4 linked regions of the Homo sapiens genome follow. The protein of the gene in region 1 interacts with the protein of each later gene in a pairwise test. Each region holds a gene or a part of one and is shown in the gene's direction. Other genes may lie near its edges. The genes, in order: CDC5L, DIXDC1, SPTBN1 and TTF2.

Region 1 (4,268 bases):
AATTCTGAAGTACAGTTTATATTCTGTCACAGGATTAATTAATTGCCGGTTTTCATACTCTAGAAGGCTGAAACTGATGTTTATCTTCATTGACAAATTTACCCACCATCTGTGGTTTTTCAGTTGTTTATTTTAAATGATATCGATCTTACACATTCTGTGTATAAAGACCTTAACTCCACAGGACGGACATTTTAGAGTTTAAATTATTAAGGCTATCATTCTTTTAGTAATGTCATATTTGCAAACTTTTTTAGTTTTGGCCTTTAATTTAAAAAGCCTAATTTTAAAGTGCTGCCTGTGAGTAACTCTTGAATAAAAACAAAATATAAAAAATTGAGAATGTAGCCTTTTGTTTGAAGTAATTAGATACTTAAGAGTGCCTGCAAACCAGCAGCTATGTACTCTGTGTCATATTTAATGAGTAACTCTTGGGTAATCAAAATGGTGATGCAGTATCTTAAACACTTAAGAGGCAGTTCTTTGTGGCTTTGTTAGTTTCAGCAAAGAGTGGTCATTTCTGTATACACTGACAAGTTAGATTAACTTTTTAGTACCTCAAATTTTTTTTTTGTTAATATCACTTTAAAGAAGGTCTCTTGTCTGCCAGCTACTTAAATAATTTATGGGTCAGGGCTTAAAAGATTTAACTTCCTTGCCCCATTATTTTCTTATAAGTATTTTTTGACAAAGGCATTTTAAAAGTTAATTTCAAGAAGGCCATCAAACTTAAAGCTCTATGTTTAGCCTAAGAAGTCAGTTACATCAGTGTAGAATTTGGGGAATGGATAGAGGTGGAGATATTTAATTTTATATAATTCATATAAATTGATTTAGTTACAGTATCAGTTGGCTACAAGCTCATTATAGACTAGCAATGTTTTGACATCACCAAAAACGTTTGCCCAGTCTTAGAATACTAGGGACTATAGGAAGGGAAGGGATTCATTCATTCATTCGATATTGAATGTATACCCTGTGCCAGAGTCTTAGAGAGAGAACAACAAACAAAATAGGCCTAGTTCTTGTTTAGTAGAGCTTATAGTCTTTTGAGAATGACAGACAATTAAAATCCAAATGTTTATTTGGTGATTCTTATGTGTCAGACACTTAAGTGTTGGGAGATAAGCAGTTATTAAGACAGAGTTCTTGCTCTCATGGAGGTGACATTAGTGGGGAGGAGATACTAAGTATGTCCAGGGAAAGTATCAGACCATGAGTTTTAGATTCTGTGGAGGAAATTAAAGTAGGGTGATTATGAGATAGTGAATGAGTGGCTATTTTAGACTGGACGATCAAAGAGACCTCTTGGAAGGCAGCTATGCTCACCACTATACCACTGCACTGTGCCGCACCGTACCACTATAAGCTGCACGGCCAAAGAGACCTCTTAAAGAAGTAACATTTAAGATAACATGTGATTGACATTTTAGAATGGGCTATCCTTGTGAGATTCAAGGAAAGAACATCCTAGGTGGAGTGAATAGCAAACATAAAGCCTCTTTTGTATGTTTGAGGAACAAAAAGGACAATGCAGCTAGAGTGTCAAGAATGGCATTTCTGTATATAAGACCTCGTTGTATAGAGCCACATAAATAAGGCTATAATAAGGAATTTGGATCTTACTTTAAATATGATAAGAATCGATGAGAAGATCTAAGCAAAGGAATGACATGATCAGATTTGGTTTTAGAAACATCACTATCTCCTTAGTGTGTAAAATCTCACCAGGCTGGAGATAGGGAAGCCAGTCCAATTAGGAGCCTGATGCAGTGATCCAGACAAAAAAATAATAGTGATTCTAACTAGAGTCCAGGTAATAGTAGTGGAGATATGTGGAGAGACATGATAGGTATATACTTAATAGTCTTATCAGACGATAAATTGATATTTTCCTGGTGTGTAGTCACTTAATTCAAATACTTTTTTCAGTAAGTTCTGGGTTTTCTAGGAAAAACTTCAGTATCATCAGTGAATAATGATAGTGTTTCTTCTGATAGTTTTATTTCACTTTTATTGCATGTTTTGTTATCTGAAATGTTTAGGACAATGTTAACAATAATGATGTTAGACATTTTTTTTTCTTATTTTAATGGGAATGTCCATAGTTTTAAGTTTGCTGTTGGGAGTTAGATAGTCTTTATCTGAAAGACAGTGTCTCTCTTTTAGTTTTTAAAGAGTTTGAATTAGAAATGGCTCTGGAACTTTAAACAGTATACCATTTGGGCATCTATTAAAGCATTCATATAATTGTTCTCATTTGATGTTTTGATGAGGTATATTAATAGATTTTCCCACATTAAATCATCTTTGCACTCCTGGAATCAGGTAGATTAATTTTTAAAAGAAATTTTAAAGGATTTATAGTTTATTTGCACTTTTTGTAGACTTGAATTATATGGATTTAAAAGTTGATCTAATATTAATAAAGGCTCACTTTGTTTTCAAAATTTGAAGTAATTCACATACTTATAGCCTAAAAAAATCGGCAGGAATTACAAAATTTCAAAACTGGCACATTGTAAACTGCATATGCATTTGCCAGGTAGTGGTGCCACTTGAAATGGTGAACAGACACACTGTTATCCTTTGTCAGTATCCTGTAAAGCCCAGGATTCTTTACCAGCACCATACAGCGATTTTGGTGACTATTTTAACATTCACACTGAGGCCAGGGGTGGTGAGTCATGCCTGTAATCCTAGCACTTTGGGAGGCCAAGGTGGGAGGATCATTTGAGCTCAGGAGTTCAAGATTAGCCTGGGTAACATAGTGAGACCCTGTCTCTATTAAAAAATAATAATAAAAATAACATTCACATTGGTATTGTTCACTAAGGTATTGGTTGTTAAGGCATTCATTAAGGTATTGTTAAAACTTGTGTTAAGCATGTTAAAGTCTCAGTAACTTTGGGATAGAAATAAAATGTGATAAAAAGCTGAAAGAAACCACCACAAGGGAGAGTCCTTTTTGAAATATTAGAGACATAATGCTGTCTAATAAAAAACGACATCAAAGAAAAACTACACTACAGTGACTGCAGACTTAATGTTGGCCAACCATGCATCCTCCCTAGAAATGCATTTGAATTTGATTTACTAATCTTTTATTTAGGAAATTTACATTTTTACATTAGTGAGATTGGTCTTTTGGGCTATTGTACTTTTTTTTTTTTTTTTTTGAGATGGAGTCTTGCTCTCTCACCCAGGCTGGAGTGCAGTAGTGCAATCTTGGCCCACTGCAACCTCTGCCTCCTGGGCTCGAGTGATTCTCTGCCTCAGCCTTCCAAGTAGCTGGGACTACAGGCATGTGCCACCGCACCTGGCTAATTTTTGTGTTTTTAGTAGAGATGGGGTTTTGCTATGTTGGCCAGGCTGGTCTTGAATTCCTGACCTCAGGTGATCCACCTACCTCGGCCTCCCAAAGTGCTAGAATTACAGGTGTGAGCCACCATGCCCAGCCTGGTTATTGTATTTTGATATTGGGATTTTGCTAGCTCTCTAAAGTAAATAGGATAACTGTATATCTTTTTCTGTGCATTAAGCAGTTATAACATGGGAATGATTTGTTCATGAAAGGTTGAAAGTCTGTACTTACAGAACTTTTGAGTTCACAGTGCTTTCTGGAAATAATTTCTTTATAACTGTCAGTTTCTTTTGTGACTATTATGTTACCTATTTTTAAATTTAAGCAACTTTAAATTAAAAAAATTGTTTTTAAAATATATTCTTCCTTTTATGTTTATTTAGTAAATTTAGGTAATGTATACTTTTTAAGAAATATTTTTATTTTGTTCAAATTTAAACATCTGTTGTTAGCAGAAAATTCTAATAGCAATTTCTTTTCTATTAACTTTGCCATTTCTAAGTTATAGGAAATTTACCTTCTCTTAATTCTACCACTTTTTACTTGACTAGACTTGTTAAGGGTATACATTTTCTGTTCAGAAAACTAGTGTTTTTATTGGCTTATCTATTGTGATTTTGTTTTAAAATATGTTAATTTCTCAATTTAGGCTTATTATTTTGTTTTCTGTAGTTTTTTGACTTTTTGAGACTGATGCTTATTTTTTGCTTGTATACAAATGAATGTGTTGAAGACTTTTGAACTGTCCTTTGAGTTCAAATATGTTCACATCCCAGCCATTTTGATATGTAGTAGTCTTGTTTTCTAAGTAGTATATCATTGTGTTTTAAATTTCTGGTTCAATAATTAAGTTTTTCAAAATATCTGTATGGTTGGCTTAAATTTTTTTTTTTTTTTTTTTTGC
Region 2 (7,126 bases), on another chromosome or scaffold:
GATTAGCTGGGATTACAGGCATGCGCCACCATGCTCGGCTAATTCTGTATTTTTAGTAGGGAGGGGGTTTCTCCATGTTGGTCAGGCTGGTCTCGGACTCCTGACCTCAGGTGATCTGCCCGCCTTCCGCCTTGGCCTTCCAATATACTGGGATTACAGGCGTGAGCCACCGCTCCCGGACCTTTTCTCTTTTTTTGAGGCAGTGTCTCACTCTTGCCCAGGCTGAAGTGGAGTGGTGCAGTCACGGCTCACTGTAGCCTCAACCTCCCGGGCTCAAGCGATCCTCCCACCTCAGCCTCCTGAGTAGCTGGGACTATGGGCACATACCACCATGAGTGGCTAATTTTTGTATTTTTTTGTATTAATTTTGTAATTTTTTTGTGCCACTGCATTCTAGCTTGGGCAGCAGAGTGAGATGATCTTGTCTCTCTCTCTCTCAAAAAAAAAAAAAAAAAAAAGACATTATTCCAAGGGTCATTTAAAATATTTTTATTGACAATTGTAATTATTTGTTTATTCAAACTGCCTTTCTGTTTCTTTATAGTCATGAATTATTGGCCATAATAGTTGTGTTACATTTTATATAGATTTGAATTTCACACTTCTTATTTTTATGCAGAGAGAAGTCACAGGCAATATTTTCACCAAATGATGGTTTTATTTTAAGGCTCAAAGTCTTACTTAGGCTAACATCTTACTCTATTTATTAACAGACGTGATTAATGTTTCTCCCACTGGCTCATTCATTCCTTCAAGTAAAAATAGATTTACATTTTTGTAATGTAATCTTGCATTCTTATGTAATGTAATGTTGCATTCTTCATATGACAGTATTGCATAATGGTTAAGAACCTGGACTTTGGCTTCACCATTTAGTAGCTATTGGGTCTGTGACAAATTACTTCTCCAAACCTCTCTTTCTTTATATGTAAAAATCCTACTGTTTATGGTAATTGTGACAGTCAAATGAGCTAATACTAAGTGCTGAGTACAGGGTTTGGCACACAGTAAAAGCTCAATTTTGCTATTATTACTGTTATATATAGATATTTGGGTAGCTTTTAGTTTGTGGGGGAAATGTCTGCCATTATTGTCAAAATAATGCAGGACTGAGGAAGCCAGGTATAAGTTCAGAAATCAGGCAGCATGGCAGGGATATGCAGAAAGCAGTTTGCTGGGTTTCTTTGCCTCTGCTTCCAGGCAGAGTGAATGACAGCCCTGCAGCAGCAGAAGTGGTTCCAGCTACCCAGATGGCTTGCAGTTTTCCCACATACAAACACTATGGGATGCCTGATCATTGTCCCAGTTATTCCTAGTTCTTGTAGCTAGCCCTCATACTCTCCCAGCTCTTATGTTGATATTACAACATGGTGGGATCGGGAGGATGGAAGGAATACTAAATGTTAGTGTTGTTTGGAGCTAAAGCTCAGTTCTTCATCTGAGCCACTTTGTAAGGCCAACTAAGATAACTGTGGTGAACATCTCTTCTGAGCAAAAAAAAAAATGGACATTATATGGTCTGACAGGAATTTTGTGCTTTTTCCAAATGTGAGAGGCAGACTATGTAAAATAGTATAATTTTTGGAACACATCTTAATAGTCATATGGGAACAATAGAATGAATATTTTGAAATTGTACTATTTAAATCAAAATTAGATGCCATTAAAATTTTGGTTCCACAGTTGCATTAGCTGTAGTTCAAGTGCTCAGTAGCCACGTATGGCCACTATATTGTACAGCATAGATATAGAACATTTCCATCTTCACAGACAGTCCTAGTGAACACCATTGCTCTAGAATATGTGGTTTGTATAGTTATAGACTTTTAGGGAATAGTGCAATATTGGACCATATGCCTTATAATACATTTTAAAAAATCAATTCACTACAATTCTCTCTTAATTCCTCCAGCATGCTGTGATGGGCAGTGCAAAGAGCACAGGATCAGACCTCAGAGCCCTCTGGTTCAGATCTTAGTTTCCATACTGACTTGCTGAGTGACTGTGAGCACCTCTCCTAGCCTTGGTTGCTTTTTCTATGATATAAGGGACTTGGGCCAAGTAAGGAAGTTGGGCCAAAATGTTTTGGAGCTTTAAAATTCAGTGATTTCATAAGTCTTTTTCCAGAAACACTGAGCTCACAGATCCTACTTTGATCAAAGACTTGTTTGAGAAACGCTGACCTCTGGCATAGATAACTGTCAGCAGGATCTCCCTCTGATGTCTCAATATTTTCTGCTCTGTGTACAAAGCATGAGGGGCTCTCAACCAATCAGGATCCTCTACCCAGGGATCCACCAAGTAGGTACTTTGGTTTTGCATCATTATGCACGTAGATGTATTGCATGCAAGTCTGTGCTGTTGGAAATTTCATGCTTCTCTTTATAAAGGAACTTGTTGAATTGACATGGGTTAGTGACTCTCCGGGGGTGTTACACCACGAAGTGTGGTAGTGTCAAAGGGAGTTCTTGGCAGTTAAATTCCTCAGCTAGATTATGAAGGACAGTGGTCTTTGGACTTGTGGGCTGCTCAGGTTTAGAATGATTTGGTGTCTTAGCTTTTCCCCAGCATTAGCCAGAATTGAACCCACTACATTCAACCAGCAGCTGCCACTCAACACCTGTGCTGGCCCTCTGCCCCCTGCCTGTTGTGGTCAGGGAGATGTGTTCTTTTTCAGAAACATCTTTGTGTTTAGCAGCTTTAGACATTCAGACAAGATATTGCTAGCCTGGCTGCTCTTGGTGGATTTTCTTTTTCTCTAAGGACCTGAAGAGGTCATTAGGTTGAATAAGAGCCATTACTGACTTTTCTGGCTAAGGTACTAATCAGGATTTGAGGAGGAATCTGGGTCTTCCAGAAAATCATAAGTGTAGACTCCTAGATCCTTGAGCTGCCTGTCACTGATTGGCTGCGTCCTTGGACAAGGCCCTGACCTTCTCTGAGCCCTAATGCTCTGTAAACCCTTCCTCTCCATCTGGGATCACGAGGTGGAATGTAAAATGAATGTTTTTTCAGCTTCGAGTTTTCCTATAGAAACAAGAGTTTGCACTGAGTTGCAAATGACTAGTATTCCTAAAAATAAATAATCAAGGCTATGACTTGAATAGCTAGAAACAGCCTAGAATAGCTTTCTGTTTCACTTGAGGAAGCTTTTTACCTCTTTCAAATGCACCAGGACATTTTTGCAGTCTTTATTTTAATTAAAGCCCATTTATTTTAAAACACATTAAAATATGGGTTGTATATTTTAGCAGTTATTTTATAAAGAATGAAATAGGAAAATTTTGGAAAAGGCTTGGTCATCCTTGATGTTTCTGTTGCGATCCTGCGTGATGTTTAGCACTGTTCTATTGAATGTGTTCTGATACCATCAATAACTAAAGTTCTTTTTATCCTCTTTTCCCCCTTTCTTCCTCTGCTCTTTCTCTTTCTTATTTCTTTCCCTTCTGCTTCCTCTTCTTTAGCTTGACCTCACTGTCCAGGGCCCATGTGGAAAAAGGTTGCTGTTTTCGGTTAGTCTGGGGGAAAATCCTATGATTCACTCCCTTTCCCACCCACCTTCTGGTGGGCCGTTTGTGGCCTTAAGTTAGCAGTGTGTGTGTGTGTGTGTGTGTGTGTGTGTGTGTGTTGCGCACCCTCCCCACGGGCACACCCGCCTGCAAGCCTGGTGTGTGTGTGCGCGCGCGCGGCTGCAAGCGCATGCATACGCCAGCCGGGCCGCCTGTTTGTCAACGTGTGTGTGTGTATGTGTGTATGTGTGTATGTGTGTGTGTGTGTGTATGCACACAGCGCGCACATACAGCAGCACGTTTGCCTAAAAGCCGTGTGAGTGTGTGTGTGTGTAGCGCACGCACACACGCCCGTGCTGCGGCCCGGGCGGGGGGGGGGTGTGCGCGTGCGTGCGGGCGTGCAGCGCGCGCCCTCGCCAGCCCGCCTGGCCGTGCGGCTTTCCCGCAGGAAAGCGGGGCTGGGGGCAGCCCGGCAGCGCCGCTCAACCTAGTGCGCGCCCAGTTGTTTCCATAGGAACCGCGACCGCGCCGGGCCCCTCCAGCGGAGGCCCCCGTGCGAGCATGCCCAGTGCAAGCCGCTAGTTTGGCTCCAGTCTAGGTTTCCAGTAAGTGGCATGCGGGACTCCGGAGGGATCCCAATGAGCTGAGCCGAGAGCCTTTGTGTGCAGAGGGAGGAGGAGGAGGCGGCGGCGGCCGCCGGGCTGGAGACCCCGCCCGGGGAGCCCCCAGCAGGAACAATGCTAGCCTGCCTGACCCGAGGGAACTTACTGGACGTCCTGCAGGAGGGCTTCAATGAGGTAACTGTCCTGCTCCTCCCACTCCTCAGCTCCCCTCCCCCAGCGTCTCCCGCCCAGTCTCCGGAAGGGGTCCTCCTCCTCCTCCATCCTTTGGGGACCCCAGAGCAAATCGCCCCCAGAACCCCAAAGGGGCTAAGGTGGTACTTACGGTGCAGATGGGTGAACCAGGAGAAATCAGAAGGGCTGCCTGCCCACAGCTAAGCTGGGCCATGACCTTCCCTGGTAGCTTACCTGAGCCCAAGAGGACAGGACCACAAATTCAGAAATCACCTCCTTCCAGAAGAGGGGGTCTCCATCCTCCCTAGAGCTTCTCTCTCCAAGGAAATCCTCAGGGAATCCCTGGATATTTGGCAAAAGTGCTCATCTATATCAGGAGCTAACCAGCGGAGCCAAGGGAGGGTGGAGTGGTACTGCATTGGTAGAAAGTTTGAGAGGGCAGGGGACTGTAGATGGTCCATGTGAAGTGCCCTCTTCATGTCTGAATCTCTTTCTGAGTGCGGGGCAGTAGATTTCTCTGCAATCAAGGACATGGTTGTCTGAGAGGAGCTACTGAGCGAGAGGGGACCTGGGTCCTGGGTCCAGGGAGCCAGCGCGTGCACCGGTCCATGTGAGAGCAGAGGAACTGGGGCCTCACTCTGACAGGCAAGATGGGCTAGGGCCGACAAGGGGTCATTTCCTCCCCACTTGTTTCTCTTACAATTCTGTTTATTGCATTTGCTTTTCTTGTGACCCAGGAAATTCTGGTTTGGGATGCTTCCCCCTCAAGATTTGCTCCATACGTCTTCGACTGCAGCTAAGCCCTACTCTTGCGGGTTGTCTTAGCCCAGCATCCAGGGAAACCTAGGCTGTTAGTTGTGTCTTTCTTCATTTCTCTCTCGCTCCTTTTCCTTCCATCTCTCTCTTTCTTCTCTCTGTGACTCTCTGAAATTTAAGATTTTTAAAATCAGTTTTTACTCAACATATGAATACATTGTCTTCTTAAATATGAGCATTTGATAGGCAAGACTGAAGTGCCTTTGGCTCCCCCCACCCATTCCAGCCTTTTCTCCAGAAATAACCATTCTCATGAATTCGTGTATAAGATTTTATTTCTCCAGCTGCACTACAGACTCCTTCCTTAATTCCTGTTTCTAATTAAGAAGCTCTGCAGCCTGACCTGCCACAGAACCCTCCCCTGGTCTGGCCCCCGTGCCCTAGCGTTGTTCCTAACACAGAGGAAAACTGCAGAAATGCTGTCCCAACCTAACCGAGTTGGAATTTTCCTTTGGCCAAGGGGTGTCACAACCTTCACTGAAGGGCGGAGCTTGCATCCTGTCTGCACTGCAGGGCACCTCATCTTTGCATCCTTCCTGTCTGAACACACGTAAGGGGATTGTTAACAAAGAGCTGTAGTCTAAGAGTTGAAACACAGAAGAGCCGGGAAGCCTACCTCTGAGTGATTCCAATATTCTGGTTCCTCTTTTCTCACTCTCTGCCTTTGGGCTGCCCCTGGTCTTTAGCTGCGTAAGTCTGACTCATTCACCAACTGTGGCAGAAGCTCTTTTAGTTGTCTTATACCTCCTGCCCCAACTTAACAACAACAACAAAACTCAGCTCTTGATGGTCCCACTGTCTGTTTAAGAGGAGGAAACCAGCACAGAGCTGGTCCTAATCTTAGTTTTCTGCTCATTTTCACTTCGAAACCTTTCGACTGAAGAGCCACCTAAACTAAGAGGCTTGGCCGTGTGTTTCATGCTTTGGTGCTTCCATAAATATCCCCTGACCTCCAATTCTTGAAAAACATAAGGGCATAAGGGAAAAGGGGAATGGGAGAGTGGTCTTTTTGTGGTGGTAATGGAATCTTCATAAAAACAACAGATGCATAACTTTTTAATTAATTGATCCCTAGAATAATGCAGTAGTGCCTCTTTTCCTTCTCTGATATTTGATTTTTCTACCCATTCTGTAAACTTCCCTCCATCCCCTCCACAAGCTAGTGTACGTCTGTTCCTCTCTGTTAGATTTGAACTCTGACAGCCAATGAGTACTTTTGATTTCTCTGAAAAATTGACATCATCTAAATAACAATGACAGTAATATGTTAAATTTGAATGGTTCCTTACAGTTTAAATAATTCTTTCACATTCTATATTAAATAATTCATTTTACATACAATATTACATTTAGTGCTACTGAATAATAGTGTAATTGGTTATTTTAGAGTCCATGGGGCCCTATTTGACCTATTCCAGCCTCCAGGGTTGCTTAATCGATCCAGTAATATCAATTTATTTTTTTAGAGTCCTTGAGATAAGGATGTAAACAGTGATTTAAAAGCTAGTGTCAGAATACGCTTTAATTCTTCTGAGAATTCCTACTGAGTCTACAAATACCACACATGTATCCAGTCACCTCCTGGGAATGATCCAAGTACATCTAAAGCTATTCTTCATCACCCAGATGCCTTATAGGTCTGTGTAGTTAGGGCTGTGACCTCATTCTCTATGGCAGAGAAAACTGCCACAGGGAATGGAGCTTTGGCCTTAATTGGTTAATTATAAGGGAACCCTGCAGCAGAGAGAAACCCTGCCCTCTGAATCCTGGCTTCCCTCTACCCACTGTTGGCTTCTGTTCTCAATCCTTTGCCACTATGTATAGCCATGCATGACAGAGTTTTCTCTTACCGCATTTCCTACACAGAGCCCTGGCCTCAACATGTCTGGCAAATAACTCACGGAATTGATCCTTGTCAGTGCTTTCAATGCAATGCCTTTGAATGGCATGGTTAATTTGGATGGCAAATTATCCACAGGTTTTGGCTACTGCCACCCTGGCTGTCAT
Region 3 (2,668 bases), on another chromosome or scaffold:
GAGATAATTCTAGTACAAAGTATAATAAAACTAGATGTATAATAAACCCTTTAAATCATTGGTAAGTGTACAAGTGGTGGAACTGAAGCATTTACTGGACAAAGTAATGTTACTCTAATGGTTACTTGCTCGTGCGTTGCCACACTGTGTTATAATTTGCTTCATTTCCTTGCTATTTGATACATAGTGTGCATTTCTCTGTCACTGTAACTATTGTAATGACAAATTTTCATCTTACTGCACAATCAAAATGACATTGATAGGAATGAACTCCAGAGGCTGGGCCTGAACAGGGAGGTGGTCGCTCAGGCCTGGTGCTCAGTCGTACGACCTGTACCTCTCAACTTTTGCCCTATCTGTTAAATATATGCTATGTCATTAAATGCTTTTAAATCTAGCACGGTGACTAGTTGTTGTTCTTCCTCTGCTGCGTGTGCATGCCCAGTAGGGAAACTGCAAAGGGAGAAATGACAAACAAGAAACATTTTACAACCAGTCTGGGCTCACTTTTGCATTTTTTATGCATGTCTGGTGCACAAGCTTTGAAAACTACAGCAAACAGTAATAAATGTGACTGTTTTGTAGTTATACATTCAGGCTTTATCTTTTATTTATGAAAAAGTTACCAGAGCACTTGTGAAACCTGAACTCTGAGATAGGGGTTGGCAAATTTGTTCTGTAAAGGGACAGAGATAGTAAATATTTTAGGCTTTGTAGGCCGTAACTGTCTCTGTTGCTCAATTCTGCTGTTGCGTAATACAAAGGCAGCCATTGACGGTATGTGAATGCCTGGGCATGGCTGTGTTCCAGTAAAACTATTTAAGGACATAAATTTGAATTTCATATAACTTTGACATGCCATACAATATTTTGATTTTCTTAATGATTTCAAAATGTAAAGTCTATTTTATACAGATCAGACCAAAAAGAAGAAAAAAAAAAAACAGGCAAGAGGTTAGGTTTGGCCCATGGGCCATAGTTTGCTGACTTCAGCATAGAGTCGTGGGTTATTTACAAGTGACATACTTTTCCTGGGTTATCTGGGTATGTTGACTCCATGCCACTTGCATAAAGCAGCAATGGATATTAGTATTATGGATGTCCAGTAAGTTATTCCACAAAGACCATGCCTAAGGTGGCATCAGCCCTGGGCTCCACAGCTGCGTGGCATCAAAGCTTTCTCTTAACTCTCTTACCTCTAGGCAAACTGAGACCTCACCATCCTCTCCCCTGCTTCCCACGACAGTCCTTTGCCCTTGCCATGCTCAGGGTTGGAATCAAGTTGTTCTATTCTCAACAGACCAAAATGTTTAGTTAAGGCAAAGTATCTTGGAAACAATTGTGATTAATTACAGTCTTGTACTCTTGACAAAGCTGTGCAGATGGCAATAAGTTCATACCAGCAATCCTGGAGTCCCATAATAAATACGTACATGTGGAACATCGTGCACATAATTTCAACAGTTCGCAGATCTGTAGTTATGAAGCCAGGGTTTGGTGGTATTTGCTCTCTCTTGGTGCATTTGATAAGGATCCACTGAGGCCTGAATGTGGAAGATGATGGGCAGCGAGAGGAGCGTCAGAAGACCCCAGTCAAGACGTGTTCGCCATCAGAGGTTACAGGCCGCACAGCCTGATGAGCTTCAAGCCTGGCAGGGTAAATAGTTTTTGGGTTTTTTGTTTTTTTTTTATTCTTCCACTATCATGTTTTTTGAGGATTTTGCATATTTCTTGTTGCCATAATGCTGTGCTATTTTACCCTGATTTTCAGTGATACAATATGGGTGACAATACTGGCCCCTCCATAAATCTGAAGAGTAAGAAGTAGTGAAAATAAGGCTTAGGATATGAAATGGCGTTGTCACTTGAATCAAGGCCACTTTTTGTCCTACTTGAGCATCTCAAGTTGGGATGCATCTTCTGATGGCACTTCCGGAACTGGCTGTGGTTTTTTTGGGTGTACCGAGAGTGCCAGTGACTGTGCTTCTTACAATTCCTGGCATCTTGAGTAGGTGAAACACTGTATCAGACTGGGTGATGGGCACATTGTCATTTCACCAAGTTCCTGGAACTGTTAGAATTGCTTGTGTATGGGGATCCTATGTTAGTTCCCCTGGATACATTGTTTTATCAGTCGGAATTCTTAAATAAAGACATACTTCCCTTCATGTAGTGGTGCAGTCCATGTAGAAAAGGCAGGATCAATGCTGGAGTCTTTCCCATTATTTGCATTACTTTCCTATAATCAGCGTTATTTATGAGTTGGTTCCTATCCTCTAAAGATGAACAATTTTTTAAATATTATGAATTTATGGGCTTAAATATATTTGAGTTTTCTGGTGAAATCCTCGTTTTTTGGTGAATATGTTTTATAATTTTGAATTGACCTTTCTAAACATGGTCCATAACACAAAAACATATTTTAACAAAGAAGAAAAAAGACTTCTTTCCATCAAAGCTCAATAGAGATTTCTGTCTATTGAAGATCATGGTGAAATATTTCATTTTCCACTAGAATAGTTTAAAATTATTCATTTGCTTTATTCCATGTTATAAAAACTCAGAATAGCAATACTAATACTACCACCACCAATAACTGAGAACAGTTTTTTTTTTTTTTTAACTCTTTATTTTGCAATACTTGTATACTGACATGCAGTTGTAAGAA
Region 4 (7,048 bases), on another chromosome or scaffold:
CATGCATTTTTTTTCTTTTTAATCTGAGGCAGGTCAGCTCTGCAATCCTATCTAAAAAGACATGAAAGTAGAGGCAACCAATCTGGAAGAAGCCCTAATAATCCATTCAGTAGAGGTAAGCTGTAGGACTCTCATAAATACATATGACTGGTGAAAATGGGGATTTGGATTCAGTAAAACACAGAAATGTGAGGTTATGAATCCTTGGTATCAGAGATTTGGCGTTAACTAAGACCCTCAAACCAGAGTAAAATCTACTGATTGCAAACACGAGATCTGGTGTTTATTTAGCTTCTTTTTAATTGTTTCCTAAATCTGCTTTATTAAAATGCAGGTAGTTCTATAAGGAAAAACCGATATTTCATTTGGCCTAATTGAAGTGGCCTATAGAAGTGAGTTGTAACTATATTATTGAGTCTGAGATCAAACATGGTTAAAGTAGCCCCATGTAGTTCCTGGCTCTCTCCGTATTTCTCTTTTAAATCCTGTACCATCCTGTGGCTTGTCTTCCCTCTTGGAAGTGGCACTGGAGTTTGGGTCTGAGGAGCCTAGACACTCGGAGGCAGCAGACTCACCGAGATCCAGCACCGTCCACATACTGTCCCAGTTGCTGAGACTCCGCCAGTGTTGCTGTCATCTTTCTTTACTGAAGTCGGTAAGAAAAGCCCTCAGCCTGCTGTCATATAGTGCTCCAGAGGGGCCACCTGAGAAGTCAATTTCACTCTCCTCCAACTGGAATCCAGTCTGCTTGATCAAAGGAAATGCTGTTTCGGTTTTTCTATTTTTGTTTTTTGGTGGGTTGGAGAAAAGGGGGCTTATTTATTTTGCTTTATTTCATATTAATCTTGATAATTCCTATGGCATCAAGAATAGTGTATTTCTATTGTTTATTTTGTTTTAGATTAACTGTTTAAGAAAAGAAAATGATATTTTGTTTAAAAAGAAGCCATTTGTGAATGCTCTGGTACTTCAGAATGTCATAAAGCTAATTTAGTTCTTGGGGTTTTCTGCTTTCAGGCAGTTTTGGGGTTTTGGGTTCCAGTTATAAAAACTCAGATAGTTATACAGACTGAAAAGTTGCCCCTACCTTGGATAGAGGCACATCCAAAATTAAGAGGAGTATTCTATTCATTTAAGGAGCTGTAATAATGTATTCTGATTATCAACATCTCAATTATATTCTAGCTTGGAAAAAATAGAATGATTATGTCATCTGCCTGGCAAGTCTTTAAAAAGTTCCATCATTTGGTTTATCTTTAATGTGGTGAAAAAACTTGCAAGATCACACTTTAATCAAGGTGTCTTGAGGAGTTACTGATGACAAATTACAAGATATTTTGCTCTGTGAAGTGGTAAACAATCAAAACATCATCAACAAGTAACAAGGTTTGCTCCCTTGACTCCCAGCTGCTCCTGTCCTTTTTTGTCTGTTCAGGCCCTGGATCCAATGGAACTGAAGGGTGAAGGTCTTGTCCTTTCCCTGGAAGAACAGCTCAGTGCTTTGACCTTGTCAGAACTCCGTGACTCAGAGCCATCTTCCACTGTTTCCCTTAACGGCACCTTCTTCAAGATGGAGCTTTTTGAAGGCATGCGAGAGAGCACCAAGGTACTTTTTGTCTCCTCTGTAGTAGTCGAGAGACTTCGATTCCTCACACATTTTCCTGTGTGACAGCACTTCATTTGTCCAAGTGGGAACAGCCATTTGCCAGCAGAGCTAGAGCCGTTAAATTCTAGCTGATCAGATTCTCCCTCCAGTCTTAAAGCTTCATTTATTTCACAGATAACACTAAAGCCTTACTACATAGGGGACTTTGAGAGAGTAATTTGGGACAACCCCAGCATTGCACTGAAGTGGGTTTTCTGTCATGGGTCACTGGGGAGCTTGCCAGGTTTGTGCTAGGGACGGGGCCTATGCAAGTGAGCAATTTGTTTAGAGAAAGCTTAAAAGGAAAACAAAGGCTTGACTCTAGAGACTGTGTCATACATGCGAGCGCCAATTGCTCTGACTTTGAAAGGCTTCCACATGTGAGTAGTGTTTCCTACATAGCCTTCTGTCTTCATTAGTCATTCTGCTCTGTTTTCGTCAGAGCTTTTTAAGGCAGAAACATTCTGCTGGAGGAAGGCTTAGATATGCCGTAACCTGAATCCTGCCTGTCTGCTGGCTCGGAATGTGCTTCATCATCCTGCCTGTCTTGAAAGTGAGGCTTGTTTCTCTCTTAGCATCTCAAGCTGCCGTTCTTGGGCTCAACCTCTCTTCAAAGGCTTTTTTTGAAAAAGTGTATTAATAACTAGAAAGGTCACTTCCAGGGGAATGGCATTATTTTTTAAAAGGAATGCTGCCTTTTAATTAAAATTTGAAAACATTTACCTAGGTCTTTACCACTGATAGCTGAGAGAAACATAAGAAGAGCATCCCATGTGGCCAGAACACACATGCTAGTGCCTTCAGAGTGAGCTATTGGGCTAAAATTTAAATTCCTAATCATTTGTGTTCCTTGTTTAATTAAATGCAGGTAATATTTATTCACAAGTTTTCTTAACATATGTCCATTAATAGTTCAAACCACATACGGTTGTTTCAAGTAGGGAAGGAGGCTTCTTACTGGAATTTGACCCCGGCTCGTGGGCCATAAATCCAGCCCTCCTGCTGCAGTTTTCTCAAAACACCATGGCTAGCTTTTTCATGTGGGAGTCACAGCGCCTTCCACAATCTCAAGTTGCCAAGACACCAGGCACATCAGTGTCTCTGTTCTATTGTTAACTAAATAACAGATGTAGCTGCTTTTCTGTCTGCTAATTTGAATGGTACAGTTCTGTGACTCACTTCCTGCCTAGGCACCAGAATGTTTGTTAAGATTGGAAAGCAGCCCCATGTGGTGACCACTGTAATGACATCCTAGAATGTGGGAGCTCAGGGCACCTCAGAATTTATCTGGCCTAAGTCCTTCTTTTCACTGATGAGGAATCTGAGTCCCAAAGTGGTCCAGCCATATGAGGACAGAGGAAGAACTTCTGTATATTTGTCTCCTGATTGACTTACAGCCCAGTTTTCTTCCTTCTCCAGCATTCTGGGGGTGAACTCTGGGGCCCTTAGAGGCTCTTGAAAGGTTTTTCACATGAGCAGCTGGGAAGAATGAGCCCAGCTGCACTCCAAAGTCATGCCCCACGTGTTCTTACTGACAGCTCCCCTGTGGACTCAAGTGCACCCTAAGGGTTCTTGGGGAATACCCAGGGAGCCTGTTCGGAAGCTTTAACAATGGTTCCTCCGTCTGGACAGGTCCTTTTCAACAACATTTGGAGCAGGCCATAAAGTGGGTAAAGCTCTTTCACTTTCTTCTTCAGCAAACATTAGGAGAGTATCTTCTCTGTTTTGGCCATGTGTGTACTCACAGCCCCTCACACATGGCCGAAACAGAGAAGTTACTTTCCTAATATTTGCCTCCTTGGAGTGTCTCAAGTCCTGGAAGCAAGAGATAATAAGCAATTAATATACAGTATGACAAGGACCGTGATAATAGAAACAAAAGGTGCTATGATAGTACTTGGGCAGTGGGCACCTAACCTGTACTTTGGGGGTTGGGAGGACCTCCAAGAAGAAGTGACATTAAGCTGACACAAAAGGGTGTTCTAGGCAGAGGGAGCAGAATGGACAAGATGGCCAGTGTGTGATTTATGGGAAGAATTTTGGTGTGCTTGCTGTGTCGTTTGAGGAGGGCATGGTGAGAAACGAACCCAGAGAAGCAGAGGCTGGAGCAGCAAGAATCCGGCAAGCTGCCTTGAGGAGCTTGGCCTTTATCCTCAGTGGGAAGCTATGGAAGGGCTTTAGCCAGAGGGGTGAAGTGACAAACTCACATTTTAGAAAGAGCTTTCTGGCTGCAGAGAGGAGGGTGGAATAAAGACAGGTGAGGCCAGAGCACAGACGCCATGTAGGAGGCTGCTTCGCATGGCAGGTGAGGGGAGATGGAGAAAAGTGAATTGCTTAAACATACAATGTTGATGTAACCTTTTCCCAGATTTCATCTCTGTTGGCAGAATTGGAGGCAATTCAAAGAAATTCAGCATCCCAAAAGAGGTAACTGCGTTTTCTCATTATCCAAGTATTGGTCATAATTATGTGAGAAAATTTGATATTGCCAAGAGTTATAAATCAAGGACTGTGAGTCATGCTCAGCAGAAAGCACTGAGGTTATAGCACACATTCCCTGTGATTTCTAATTAAAATATTTGTGGTACAAATTGAAAAGGAGATCCCTAGAGGATCAGGGTAAGCGAAGCATCTGAAAAAGTGTTTAAAAGTAGAGAAGCATATAAAGAAAAGCAAGCGAGTGAGGAGGCTCCAGCAGTGCTGATAACGTTCTTAAGCTGAGTACTTGGATACAAGGACTCATTTGTTATACCTGACATATGTGCTATACACCTGCATTATTTATAAAATAATTCAATATAAAAATTTAGAACTCGAATTAAGACAGCGTGGGGGCAGGGAGGAGCCTGTTGTTCTGGCTGGCACAAGAAGGGTGGTCAGTGTGTCCCTTTTGTGCAGGACCACAGATTTCTGGATGAGCACTAGGACCCCAAATGAAAGAAGGCTGGAGTCATCACTTTACTCTAGCTACCATTTTTTTCTGACTTCATTTAGCACTAAATAAATTGTAGAAAGGACCTAGAAATAACTGGAAGCATTATAATCTTCAGATATGACCTAAATGTGTGCCTTCTCCCTTAGGTAGCAGAAGGCCTTTCCTTGTCAACATTTGATAGCTAACCTTAAGAATGATGAGGGCATTAAAGCCCTGCAGATGAGTCTGTTTAATCTATGTTAGGGTATTTTTTTATTTTATTCTTCTTTCCAGTGTCATTGTCTCTCAGTGGACCAACATGCTGAAAGTTGTAGCATTGCACCTGAAGAAGCATGGACTGACTTATGCCACCATCGATGGCTCTGTCAATCCCAAGCAGAGAATGGACTTGGTAGAGGCATTTAACCACTCCAGAGGCCCTCAGGTACAAGCTGGTCACATCAGAGCCGCATAATTAACTGTTCTGAGTTATACAAAGAGAATTCTTTTTGTTTGGTTGGTTTTTGTTTTTGTCTTTTTGAGACGGAGTTTTGCTCTTGTTGCCCAGGCTGGACTGCAATAGTGCTATCTTGGCTCACCGCAACCTCCGCCTCCCGGGTTCAAGCGATTCTCCTGCCTCAGCCTTTCAAGTAGCTGGGATTACAGGCTCCTGCCACCAAGCTTGGCTAATTTTTGTATTTTCAGTAGAGATGAGGTTTCACCATGTTGGCCAGGCTGGTCTTGAACTCCTGACCTCAGGTGATCCACCTGCCTTGGCCTCCCAAAGTGCTGGGGTTACAGGCGTAAGCCACCGTGCCCAGCCATATAAAGAGAATTCTGATATGGCAACTTAAAAATATTTACAGCCTTGATTCCTCCGAGTGTTTAGAATTTATTAGACATGTATTGGGATACTTTTAAAGAGCACAAATATTCTAAAAAGAATCAAATATGAGGACTAAAAGGAGATTAACAGCAGAGCTGGTTAGGTTGAGGGGAATCTTTGCAGAGGAGGCAAGCTTTGAAGGATAGGTGGGGTTTTGGTATGAGGAAATATGGAAGGAAATGAAAGAACACAGGCATCTAATTATAGATAATAAAGATTTGGAAAGCATTAGTAGAATGATAGGCAGGAGAATTATTGTAGCAATGGAGGGGTAGGGACTGATGAAATAAACATAATCTGGTTAATTGAAAGTTTATTGAGCTGACCATCCCCAGGGTTCTAAATTACAGTATTTATATATTTTGGCAAGCACTCAGTTAATTTTTTGAGGTTGACTCACACACACACAAAATGTGATGTGAGAATTTTCTCAAAAGTGAGACATGGGAGATAGCATTATAATGTTAAAAAAAAAAACAATTTATAACAGCAGAAGGAAATTTGATAGGAACACAGTGCTTATCTGTATTGATTGTGGACTTAAACCTGAGACCGAGATGTGTTACGAGACCAAGTCTGTTTAAAGTTAATGTTGTGTTTCCTTTTGAAGGTAATGCTAATCTCTCTCTTGGCCGGAGGTGTTGGTCTAAACCTGACTGGAGGAAATCACCTCTTTCTTTTGGACATGCACTGGTAATGATTCCGGATTTGTCCTGGGTTGTCACAGCACATCAAGGAGGCCAGTGGGCTACAGGGGCAGCAAGAACTGACTTCTTATGTTGATTGCTGTGTTCGTATTGCAGAGATGCCTTGCTTTGTATGTGTCTATAGATACAGATCTAAGCAGGGTATAGGGCTAGCTGACTCCCCTGAATTCCTGAGCTAGCAAGCCTTCAAATGACTACTCAAAATAGTTCATTCACGTTATTGTTAGTCTAACATCTGTTTCCATGGAAACGGGGAGCATAGCTTTTCCTCATGGCTAAGAGTTAACCTTGCTCAGTTTTACCTCTTCTCCAGAATACTGTATTCCAGACACACTTGTTGGGGTCCAAGGAAATTTCAACCTTTGAAAAGAGGGAGAAGCATTACTCCAAAAAGAAAAGGAATAGGGATTTTCTAATTATGTTAGAAATACACTTAATACCTCACCCTTGGATTCATTGTATGTAGTGTTAATACCAGGAGTACAACCACATCTTTCGTGGCTACAGAATGAATGAGTTAGTGTGTTGCTAACAGAAAATCTCATAATGAGTACCAGTTTCTGGTTTTCCAGTTATGCCAATCAAGGATTGCTGCTGGGGATTGTCATTGGTCCAATTCTCCAGACAGCCCAGATGGGTACAAATAGGTCAACCTGTTATCATCTTCCAGGAGAACGGGTTTAGTTCTTACTTGGGACTCCTCTGTACACGTGAGTGAGGAAAGCATACTAGGAATCATGCTTTTTTTTTTTTTTCAGAGATAGAGAAATGTTATCCAAGATTTTAAAGAGGTAAGATGAGAAACTAATTTGGAGTTACAATGGGAATCAATAAAGAAGGAAACAAATTAAGTCTCCTTAATCGAATCACAGAATATTCAAGTTGAAAAAGGCAGC

The links.
Region 2: the proteins of CDC5L (region 1) and DIXDC1 interact in a two-hybrid assay, tested with the Homo sapiens proteins (2 studies listed by BioGRID and IntAct).
Region 3: the proteins of CDC5L (region 1) and SPTBN1 interact in binary tests that used the Homo sapiens proteins (3 or more experiments, as listed by UniProt).
Region 4: the proteins of CDC5L (region 1) and TTF2 interact in binary tests that used the Homo sapiens proteins (3 or more experiments, as listed by UniProt).

What each region holds. Positions count from the first base shown.
Region 1 is NC_000006.12:44,446,704-44,450,971, forward strand, and holds the end of CDC5L (cell division cycle 5-like protein), read left to right. Parts: coding exon 1-8; 3' UTR 9-3,722; downstream 3,723-4,268.
Region 2 is NC_000011.10:111,933,254-111,940,379, forward strand, and holds the start of DIXDC1 (dixin), read left to right. Parts: upstream 1-4,089; 5' UTR 4,090-4,246; coding exon 4,247-4,306; intron 4,307-7,126. UniProt on the Homo sapiens protein: Positive effector of the Wnt signaling pathway; activates WNT3A signaling via DVL2. Regulates JNK activation by AXIN1 and DVL2.
Region 3 is NC_000002.12:54,669,279-54,671,946, forward strand, and holds the end of SPTBN1 (spectrin beta chain, non-erythrocytic 1), read left to right. Parts: 3' UTR 1-2,168; downstream 2,169-2,668. UniProt on the Homo sapiens protein: Fodrin, which seems to be involved in secretion, interacts with calmodulin in a calcium-dependent manner and is thus candidate for the calcium-dependent movement of the cytoskeleton at the membrane.
Region 4 is NC_000001.11:117,091,296-117,098,343, forward strand, and holds part of TTF2 (transcription termination factor 2), read left to right. Parts: intron 1-32; coding exon 33-115; intron 116-521; coding exon 522-655; intron 656-1,435; coding exon 1,436-1,606; intron 1,607-3,347; exon of another isoform or gene 3,348-3,433; intron 3,434-4,013; coding exon 4,014-4,072; intron 4,073-4,853; coding exon 4,854-5,004; intron 5,005-6,055; coding exon 6,056-6,138; exon of another isoform or gene 6,139-6,910; coding exon of another isoform or gene 6,911-6,911; exon of another isoform or gene 6,912-6,943; intron 6,944-7,048. UniProt on the Homo sapiens protein: DsDNA-dependent ATPase which acts as a transcription termination factor by coupling ATP hydrolysis with removal of RNA polymerase II from the DNA template. May contribute to mitotic transcription repression. May also be involved in pre-mRNA splicing.